Regions from separate parts of the Homo sapiens genome. Here region 1 is linked to region 2. Evidence: fine-mapped expression QTL. A gene starts in region 2. The other region holds a variant in brackets. All regions are shown on one strand. Distances are from middle to middle. Region 1 has its middle 34 kb from the start of GPR141. Region 2 holds the start of GPR141 (G protein-coupled receptor 141).

What was found.
Region 1: its variant is fine-mapped to the expression of GPR141 in whole blood (INTERVAL, PIP above 0.99).

Annotation. Positions count from the first base shown.
Region 1 is chr7:37,646,948-37,652,337 of GRCh38, reverse strand. No RefSeq gene overlaps it. Among named protein-coding and RNA genes, the nearest start is that of GPR141, 34 kb to the left of the region's middle. The variant G/A (reference allele first, on the strand shown) is at 2,771.
Region 2 is chr7:37,681,171-37,686,560 of GRCh38, reverse strand. It overlaps GPR141 (G protein-coupled receptor 141), which reads right to left and starts at 2,795. Exons shown (of 3, transcript NM_001381946.1): 1 at 2,658-2,795; 2 at 978-1,101. RefSeq lists an enhancer at 4,733-4,792.

The DNA.
Region 1 (5,390 bases), 34 kb after region 2:
TATGTAGAAAGCTGAAACTGGATCCCTTCCTTACACCTTATACAAAAATTAATTCAAGATGGATTAAAGACTTCAATGTTAGACCTAAAACCATAAAAACCCTAGAAGAAAACCTAGGCAATACCATTCAGGACATAGGCGTGGGCAAGGACTTCATGTCTAAAACACCAAAAGCAATGGCAACAAAAGCCAAAATTGACAAATGGGATCTAATTAAACTAAAGAGCTTCTGCACAGCAAAAGAAACTACCATCAGACTAAACAGGCAACCTACAGAATGGGAGAAAATCTTTGCAATCTACTCATCTGACCATCTGACAAAGGGCTAATATCCAGAATATACAAGGAACTCAAACAAATTTACAAGAAAAAAACAACCCCATCAAAAAGTGGGCAAAGGATATGAACAGACACTTCTCAAAAGAAGACATTTATGCAGCCAAGAGACACATGAAAAAATGTTCATCATCACTGGCCATCAGAGAAATGCAAATCAAAACCACAATGAGATACCATCTCATACCAGTTAGAATGGCGGTCATTAAAAAGTCAGGAAACAACAAGTGCTGGACAGGATGCAGAGAAATAGGTACATTTTTACACTGTTGGTGGGACCATAAACTAGTTCAACCATTGTGGAAGACAGTGTGGCGATTCCTCAAGTATCTAGAACTAGAAATACCATTTGACCCAGCCATCCCATTACTGGGTATATACCCAAAGGATTATAAATCATGCTACTGTAAAGACACATGCACACATATATTTATGGCAGCACTATTCACAATAGCCAAGACTTGGAACCAACCCAAATGTCCATCAATCATAGACTGGATTAACAAAAATGTAGCATATATACACCATGGAATACTGTGCAGCCATAAAAAAGGATGAGTTCATGTCCTTCGTAGGGACATGGATGAAGCTGGAAACCATCATTCTCAGCAAACTATCACAAGGACAAAAAACCGAACACCACATGTTCTCACTCATAGGTGGGAATTGAACAATGAGAACACTTGGACACAGGAAGGGGAACATCACACACCGGGGCCTGCTGTGGGGTTGGAGCGGGGAGGGATAGCATTAGGAGATATACCTAATGTAAATGACGAGTTAATGGGTGCAGCACACCAACATGGCACATGTACACATATGTAACAAACCGGCACATTACGCACATGTACCATAGAACTTAAAGTATAATAAAAGAATAATAAAATTTAAAAAATAGTTGTGTAATCACTTACAGTGTATGAACAGAATATTTACAGCATTATAAAATATTTTTATAGTTTTAGTTTGTAGAGTTTACTAAGCTTACTTTTTAGACATTAATGCAGTTTAAATCGTGGAATAATTCTTTACAACAATAGGATGCATTTCAAATTTGACATAAGAAAGTCCTAATTTCACAAATACTTTTAAAAATCGCTTTTAATTTTTACTTGTGTCTAGACTTGAGGCTTTTTGTTAATTCTGCTCTAGAAAATGTTGGATTAGGAACCCCTTTTCTTCACTCCAGATACATACATAAAATTTTAATTATAAAATGTGCTATGGCTTTAAAGTGAAATCTAAGGTAATATGACTTTAAATGGGTTGCATGGTAACATATACTTGGTGGGCTTTTTTGTACTGTTTAGAAATTTGAGTTCAATAAACAATGTACCGTTCTGTATGTCAAAAAAAAAAAAAAAAAGAAGGGTGGTTGTCAGGCGCTGGGGAAAGGGGGAAACAAGGAGGTATTAGTCAAAGGGTACAAAGTTTCAGTTAGGCAAGATAAATAAATCCTAGAGATCTACAGTACAACATAGTGCCCATATAGTTAATAATATTAATAATATTTTATTATATATTCAAAATTGCTAAGAGGGTATTTTGTTGTGTTCTTATTATACACATACAATAATAATAATAACAGAGAGGGGGAGGAGGAAACATTTGGAGGTAATGGATATATTCATGGCATAGATTGTATTGATTCTTTCATAGGTGTATGCTTACCTCCAAACTTGTCAAGTTGTCTACATTAAGTATGTATAGCTTTTTGTAAGTCAAAACACAAACAAATAAAAACACTGCTGATGACAAAAGAAAAGGAAAGGAAGGAAGGAAGGAAATAAGGAACGAAGGAAGGACGGAAGGAAGGGCGTATTCTACTCTTCCTTGTTTATTAAAGGTTATTTTTCAGAAAGCGATGTAAAAATTGTATCAGTTATTTTAATATCACTGATACAAGTGGTCACTTTTTAAAATTTTTTCCTTTGAGCTGGGTGTGATGGCTCACACCTGTAATCCTAGAATTTTGAGAGGCCAAGGTGGGCAGAGCCCCTGAGTCCAGGAGTTCAAGAGGAGCCTAGGTAACATGGATAAACTCTATCTCTACACAAACAAACAAAAAAAATTAGCACAGCATGGTGATGCACACGTGTAATCCCAGCTACTACAGAGGCTGAGGTGAGGTGGAAGGATCCCCTGAGCCCAGGAGGTCAAGGCTGCAGTGAGCCGTGATTGCACCACTGCACTCCACCCTGGGTGACAGAGTGAGACCCTGTCTAAAAATATTAAATTAAATTAAGAAATAATTTTTTTTTGCTTTGAAGTAATTGTAGATCCTCAGAAACTTATACAAATAGTACAGAGGGTTATATCATTTTTACCAGTTAGTATTATTGATCTAATAAATTTCCGTGATAGATTTCCAAATGTTGAACTATTTCCTGCATTCTTGGAAAAAAGTCTACTTGGTCATCGTCTACTTTTCTTT[G/A]TAATATGCCACTGGATCCTACTTGCTAAATATTTTGTGTAGTACTTTGGCATCAATATTCTCAAGTAAGATTCATCTTTTTTAAGCAATTATTAGGTGTAGATATCAATTATGCTCTCATCTTCAAAAGAATTTATAGACTTATCTTCCTTTTCTATGTTTGAAGCACTGAAATTACTTAATTTTTCAAGGTTTGGTAGAAGTGTCTCAACTTGCTTTGTTTGCTTTTATCGTTGCTTGTTTGTTTTTGTGGGGAGTCGGTAGCTTTTAGATAAATTTCTCTATTTCTTCTAAGATAACTGAGCTATTTAGATTTCTTTATATCTGTTTAGAGTTACTTTTGATAAATTATATTTTCCTGGAAAATTATTCATTTCATCTAGCTTTTCCAAACTTATTAACATAGGCTAGAGTAAATTAGCTCTTCATGATCCTTTTAATTTTCTCTGATTCTATAGTTATTTTCTCATCCTTGCTTATTTTTGCCTATTTGTGCCTTTTGTCTTCTTAATTAGGGTAGCTAATGATTCATTTTCTTTTCAACAAGCAGTACTGAGAACTTTTAATTAATTCTGTCACTTTTCTCTTTTATAATTTATTTTAAATTTTTATCTCTATTATTCCCAATCTAACTTCTTGAATTATATGACTAATTTATTGACTTTCATTATTTACTAGTAGAATGCCTAATGCTGGCCGGGCACAGTGGCTCACGCCTGTAATCCCAGCACTTTGGGAGGCCGAGGCGGGCAGATCACGAGGTCAGGAAATCGAGACCATCCTGGCTAACACGGTGAAACTCCGTCTCTATTAAAAATACAAAAATAAAATCAGCCGGGCGTGGTGGCGGGCGCCTGTAGTCCCAGTTACTCGGGAGGCTGAGGCAGGAGAATGGCGTGAACCTGGGAGGCGGAGCTTGCAGTGAGCCGAGATCGTGCCACTGCACTCCAGCCTGGGTGACAGAGCGAGACTCCCTCTCCAAAAAAAAAAAAAAAAAAAAAAAAAAAGAATGCCTAATGCTATGCATGTTTCTCTGTGTGCTGCCTTCATGTCTAGATTGTTCTGCCATCTCATTTTAATTTCTTCTATACCATGAGTTAGTTAAGAAAATTTTTTTATTTCCAAGCAGTAAGGAATTTCTGATTTTATACTTAGTTTGCATTTACTATCATTTTTCATATTTTATTTTCAACTTTATAAATCACTTTGTGTTAAAATGTCTGAAATATACCATACAGAGTTGATTTTTGCTTGGTGATCCTATACAACAATTTCTTTCTTTTAAAGCATGTATATGTAAATATAATTTGCATTTATCAGTATGATAGTTATGTTAGGATTTAGCTCTCCTTTGTGACATACTTTCTGCTTTTATAATTCTGTTTTTAAATCTGAGACTATTGGGCTCTTTGTTTTGTTTGAGAGTATGTGCTTCTTCTGATAATTGGAAAGCCTGTATTTTTCTTCTAATGGTTACTTTGTGGCTTTTTATAATATCAGTAATAGTCTGAATCTTCTATTTCATAATAATATAATATCAGGAAACTTTTGTTGGTCTGATTTTGATAATTCCCCACTCTGAGCAATGACTAATTGAGAAAGTACCCCCTTTCTCCTTACCTATCTCCTCTGTCACAACAGTTTGGTTTTTGCCTTCTCATTATGTGTTTTGTGTTGTTAAATATACATATTCCTCTACTACTTGGTTTATTTATTTAAAATGATGTCTTTTGGTTCCTGGGAATGAAAAGATAGATAAGACCATCAAGAAATTTTGAGCACCTACCAATGCTTTTTTTTTTTTTTTTTTTTTTTTTTTTTTGAGATGGAGTCTCGCTCTTTCGCCCAGGCTGGAGTGCAGTGGTGCGATCTCGGCTCACTGCAAGCTCCGCCTCCTGGGTTCACGCCGTTTTCCTGCCTCAGCCTCCCAAGTAGCTGGGACTACAGGCGCCCGCCACGACGCCTGGCTAATTTTTTGTATTTTTAGTAAAGACGGGGTTTCACCGTGTTAGCCAGGATGGTCTCGATCTCCTGACCTCGTGATCCGCCTGCCTCGGCCTCCCAAAGTGCTGGGATTACAGGCGTGAGCCACCACACCCGGCCTAGAACACCTGCTAATTCTTATTAGTAACATCATATTAATATTGTCAGAGTTTATAACATTTACATGTCTTTAACCATACTGTTTCCATTTATCTCTTAATTCGTTGACAATCTCAAGTAGTGTCTTCAAGAAGACACAGGGATAATATTTATAGGAACAACATTCCCTGGACATTTGCATGTTTTTAACCACATCTTTCTCCACTTCACATTGGCATGGCAGTTTGACTTGGCTTTAAAAAAATATTTTCTCACTTTCTTTCCATAAGGACTTTTTCCCTGAGGATATTTTGACCGATTTAGAAGGTTGTGTTGTATCTGAGACAACCCGACTTGCTTGTTTGTTTGTTTAATTATAAGTTAGTAGATCCTTTTAGTCTGGCTCACCTAAAGATTTTTTTCCTTGGAAACCTAATAGGTCTACTGAAATCATTCTCCATTTTGACACATCTCTATTTTTCCTAGATCATTATATGCCTTATCAAGCATAGATTCAAGTTACCTTCTATATTTTGGA
Region 2 (5,390 bases):
ATAAAGGTAGCAAAGGCATAGTTCCTGCCCTTAAGGAAATTATGTTTTTAGGAAACAGACTATGCTTAGATTAAGTTTGATTATGACTGTCACGAATAATAACATTGTCATTCAAAATAAGATGGGACAATAACATAATTTGGAAAATACTTTGGTATAACGTATGAACTAGCTTTGAAAACACTTTGCAAAGCAATGTCTCAGAAATCTTTGATCAATTGAAAATTGTTTTCAATGTTATTACTTTGAAAGACAGCACAGACTTGCACATATTCTAACTTCTTTAAAATATTTTTAGTCTGAGTCTGAGTCAGGAAGACTGCTTGAGCCCAGGGATTTGAGACCAGCCTTGGCAACATAGTGAGACCCCCTCTCTAAAGAAAAAAAAAAAAAAAAAAGGCAGGCAGGGTGGCTCACACCTGCACTCCCAGCTATTCGGAAGGCTGAAGTGAGAGGACCACTTGATTCCAGGAGGTGAAGGCTTCAGTGAGCTGTGATTGTGCCACTGCACTCCTGCCTTGGAGACAGAGCGAGGCCCTGTCCCAAAAATATATTTTTTAACATATTATTTAACAATATATTTAACACATTATTTTAGTCACAACATGCTACGTCTCTTATAGTGCTAGCACAATGGCTTACCCATAGTAGACACCAGTAAACATTTCACAGGCTCATTGATTTTAAATTTGGAAAGCACTTTTAGAAATTAGCTAGACCTGTGGTCCTTAACTACAATTGGATTTTGGACCACTTTGAAAATCAATCCGTGTTTTTCTTATTTAAAAAAAAAAAAAAAAAAAAAAAAGTGCTGCCAGGCACAGTGGCTCATGTTTGTTATCCCAGTACTCTGAAAAGCCAAGGCAGGAGGATCACTTGTGCCCAGGAGTTTGAGACTAACCTGGGCAACATGAGCAAGACCCTGTCTCTATTTAAAAAAAAAAATTAATTAATTAGCCAGGTGTGGTGGCAAGTACCTGTAGTCTCAGCTACTGAGGAGGCTGAGATGAAAGGATCACTTGAGCCCCGGAGGTCGATGCTGCAGTCAGTGAGCCATGATTGAGTCGCTAAACTCCAGCCTGGGCAACAGAGAGAAAGGCCCTGAAGAAAGAAAGAGAGAAAGAGAGAGAGAGATGGAGGGAGGGAGGGAGGGAAGAAGGCAGGAAGGCAGGCAGGCAGGCAGGCAGGCAGGCAGGAAGGAAGGAGGGAGGGAGAGAAACACACACACGCACAAAAGGAAGAAAAGAAAAACACACACTTACATTTTTGCATGCAATTTCAGAGGATTGGTGTATCAATCTAAAGACCATCCAGGAACTCCCTTAGCTGAGCATCTCTTATCCAGTCTACAACTTCCATTTTATAATTGTTGAAAATCATTGCTAGAAGAATAGTTGGAAAATTGTGTCACCTAAGCCAAAGCTGGCTCACTTCTTGTTTTTATACAGCCTGTGAGCTACGAATGGTTTTTATAGTTTTAAATGGTTATGTAAGTACCAATATATTAGCCTCAGTTCTACCTCTTGGCTTGCAAAGCCTAAAATATTTACTATCAAGGCTTTTGTAGAAAAAGTTTGCCAACCCCTGGTCTGGAATCCTTAGACAATATTCCCCCAAATTATGCAGCCAATTACTAGAAAACAGAGGACTAGAATTCACACCACCTGATTCCTCATCCATTGGTCTTCCCATTACTTCTATTGACTGATTAAAATCCTAATTAACTGATTTAAACCCAATAAAACAGAAAACAAAGACATGTAATTCTGGAGTACTTAATAAGTAATTTCTCAGATAAGTAATTGTGCAGTTATGTAGAACGCTGAAGTCCAGAGAATTAAGTGACCTATCAAAAGTCATATAACAAATTTGTAAAAGAAACAAAATTAAATGCCTATATTCAGGTTAGGCATTACTGACTTATTGTTTAAAAACTTTGCATTATATTTCATTCCACATATTTGAAAAATATTACTTCTTGGAAGTAGAAAATACTGGTATAGAAAGTATTTTACTTAAAGTAAAATTATTTGAACAGATGTTGTTCTTTTTATTTATCTTATTTAAGAAGTTATTTTCAGATCCTTCCTGTTAAGTAGTACTTTAAAAGTGGGATGGAAAGAATTATAATTACCATTATTTCACATGTTATTTTGAATATACTTCTTTTAGAAATTTCTAAGTACTTGATTGCTTACAGATTGTTTCCTTCTATTGACTAGGGCTGCCTGAATAGTTTCAAACTCTATCTGAAAATAATGCAGTAATAGAGTTAAAGGATTTTCATAACAAAAGGAAATTAAGACATCACTTAAAAGATAAGCATTTGAATAATTATACACAAATTCAATAGTGCCAACTGCTCTAAAAAATTCTATGATATGTTTAGCTGGTTTTTTGACAGAGAGATTCTGAAATCATTTTTGTTCACATTTACCCATAAATATTAGGTTTTACTTTCAGAGCAGCATATCCTAAGCAGTAAGAATAGAACAATTCTTTCTATAAAGGAGGAGTTGTGGTCAGAGAATAAGCTTGCTTTTTAGAGCAGAACCATTTGAAGATTCTGAATTAGGACTATGCCAACAAATTAAGTGTGCTTTATTTCTATAGCACTTTCATTCATGTCTCCCCAAACCTAAGTCATCTGCACTTACCTTGAAAATCCAGATTTCTCAGTGATGGCTACAGAGATGGGCCACATGTCTGCCTTCCAAATAGGATTCTGTTTCAACAGCAGGGCAGCTGGGTCATTTCCATGCTCTGCATGCATTTGCAAAGGCTCTGGACAGCTCACCAAGCAAAAGGAAGTGAATGTGTTCTAAGTTCCTCAGAATGTCAACAGACCATAAAACCTCAAAACCATTTGAAACACAATAGTCTTGAAAAACCAAGCTCTTAAACATGAGTAGTCCAGGTTGCAAACTACAGAGAGGCCAATTGTCAAGAAATATTTATGAAGGATTGATGACTACGATGAATCAAGTTTTTAAAATGTTCTTCAAACTAAATTTTGTAGAGAATGGGGAACAAAGTGGTATTATCAAAAACAAAAAGGGAAGGTAAACTGTGTATTGTTCTTCTGGTGAAGGAATATGTGTAATATTTCCTTTCAGTAAGGAGAAAATTTCCAGAGTTGCTCTATACCTCACTGGTAACTTAGGGCTCCCACTTTTATAATTGTGTTAATTAGCTGTCACTGATAAATGGCATTGACTGGGATATGGCACTATAATTATGTCATTTAATTAGAATTAAGAGAGAAAATATTTAAAATCAGAGTGTGCTATAGGGGCAGGGGAGGGGAGTAAATCGTCACAGCTTAACTTTTTAGACTGTCAACATTATCTCCAGAAGAAGCTGCCCATACAGTCATAGAGATGCACTGCAAGTATTGAGAAAAAAAAACATCAGTTCCTCAAACTGCTTGAACTTTCCTACCATTTGATGACCACTCTATAAATTAGGATTTTATAAACTTTCTAATTATGTAAATCGGTGGTCCCCAACCTTTTTTGGCACCAGGGAAAGGTTTCATGGAAGACAATTTTTCCACAGACAGGGGTGGGGATGTTTTCTGGATGATTCAAGCACATTACATTTATTGCGCACTTTATTTCAATTGTTATTACATGATAATATATAATGAAATAATTATACAACTCATCATAATGTAGAATCAGTGGAAGCCCTGAGGTTGTTTTTCTGCAACTAGATGGTCCCATTTGGGGGTGATGGAAGACAATGATAGATCATCAGACATTAGATTCTCATAAGGAACACTGCAACCTAGATCCCTAGCATGGACAATTCAACAATAAGGTTCATGCTCCCATGAGAATCTAATGCCGCTGCTGATCTAACAGGAGGTGGAGCTCAGGCAGTAATGCAAGTGATGGGGAGCAGCTGTAAATATAGACGAAACTTTGCTGGCCCACTCGTGCACTGCTCCGCTCCTTCTGTACAGCCCAGTTCCTAACAGGCCACGAACCACTGCTGGTCTGTGGCCCAGGGGTTGAGAACTCCTGATGTAGACAGCATGTTAATATTATATAGAAATTGGTCAATTAAAAAGTACTAATTTATTAAATATCAACATTTTCAACATTCCCCTATTTTTAAAATCCATTGTGACATTTCACTATTTCAAAAAGAAATTTTAAAAGGCATCAAAATGATACTGGCCCTGGGTTCTTTCTATTTTAAGGTCCCTAAGTAGAATGATAACTTTGGTAATTTGGGGTGATTCCTGGTATTCTTTACAGTGCTAAAACACTCATTATTTTAGGCGAAATTTTTGCAGTTCTGTTTTCATCAGTATTCACATTTCTTACTCCAAACATAATGTTCTAAGTGCTTCCAACTTTGTTTCTTAGTTTGAAGAGAAGGCCTCTGCATCAGGAAACTCTTCAATTTCAGCAGATGTGCGTTCTTTCTGCCATATGAGTTAAAATGCTATCTGCTTCAAAATAACTCATGCTAGAGATATTTCAAGCTTTATTAGTTGTAGAGAAGATTGTTGCTGACAAACCCTCCTGCTGAGAGCAGCTTACAAAAATGAACAGAATGCAAAACCTATAAGTTTGAAGGCTTCAGAAAGCTGCCCAGGCAATGACACCTTGAAGAAATAAAATCCCCAGAAGACAGGAAGTACAAATCAGTGAATCTGATTTTCAACTCCTGAGTACTTTTTACTCAAGGCACTGCTGATTTGAAACTGGACACTGAGAGGTGAAGAAACAGGTGAAATACAGTGGCTAAGATGCTCAGAAGTTAAGGAAATCTAGTTTAAGAAGCAAACAGAGACCACCAAGGAGGTGGTGCCCTTATAATTACCTCAAATTTTCAGTTAGGACCCCTGAAGGGCTACACCCTAGGAGACAGCATGTGCTAAAAATATTGTACCATCACAAAGTGGGAGCCCAATTTCAAATCACCTAAATTGCTGAATTAGGTAGACAATCACTGAATAGATAGGAGATTTGCCATCGTCATAACGACCTCCTCACACACATCAAGCAAAAGTAAATACTCTCTGGAGGACGATAACACTAACCAGATCAATGAATTGACTCTCAAACTTTTTAAACACAATGTCCAAATTTCAATAACTATTAAAAGCCATGTCTGAAGATAAGTCTAGAAAAACAGACCATGAAAATAAACAGAAAATAGAAACAAATGCACAAGGGCATTCAGAATTGATTGGTTTTAAAATAGCTGTAATCAATGTTTGAAGAGAGTACACAAAATATAGAAAATTTACACTAGAGAATTTTTTTAATAAAATAGAAATTCTGAAACTGAAAAATAAAACAACTAAAGTTACTTAACTGATGAAGACTAATAGAAGATTAGACACAGAGGATGATGGAATTGAAATATAGGTC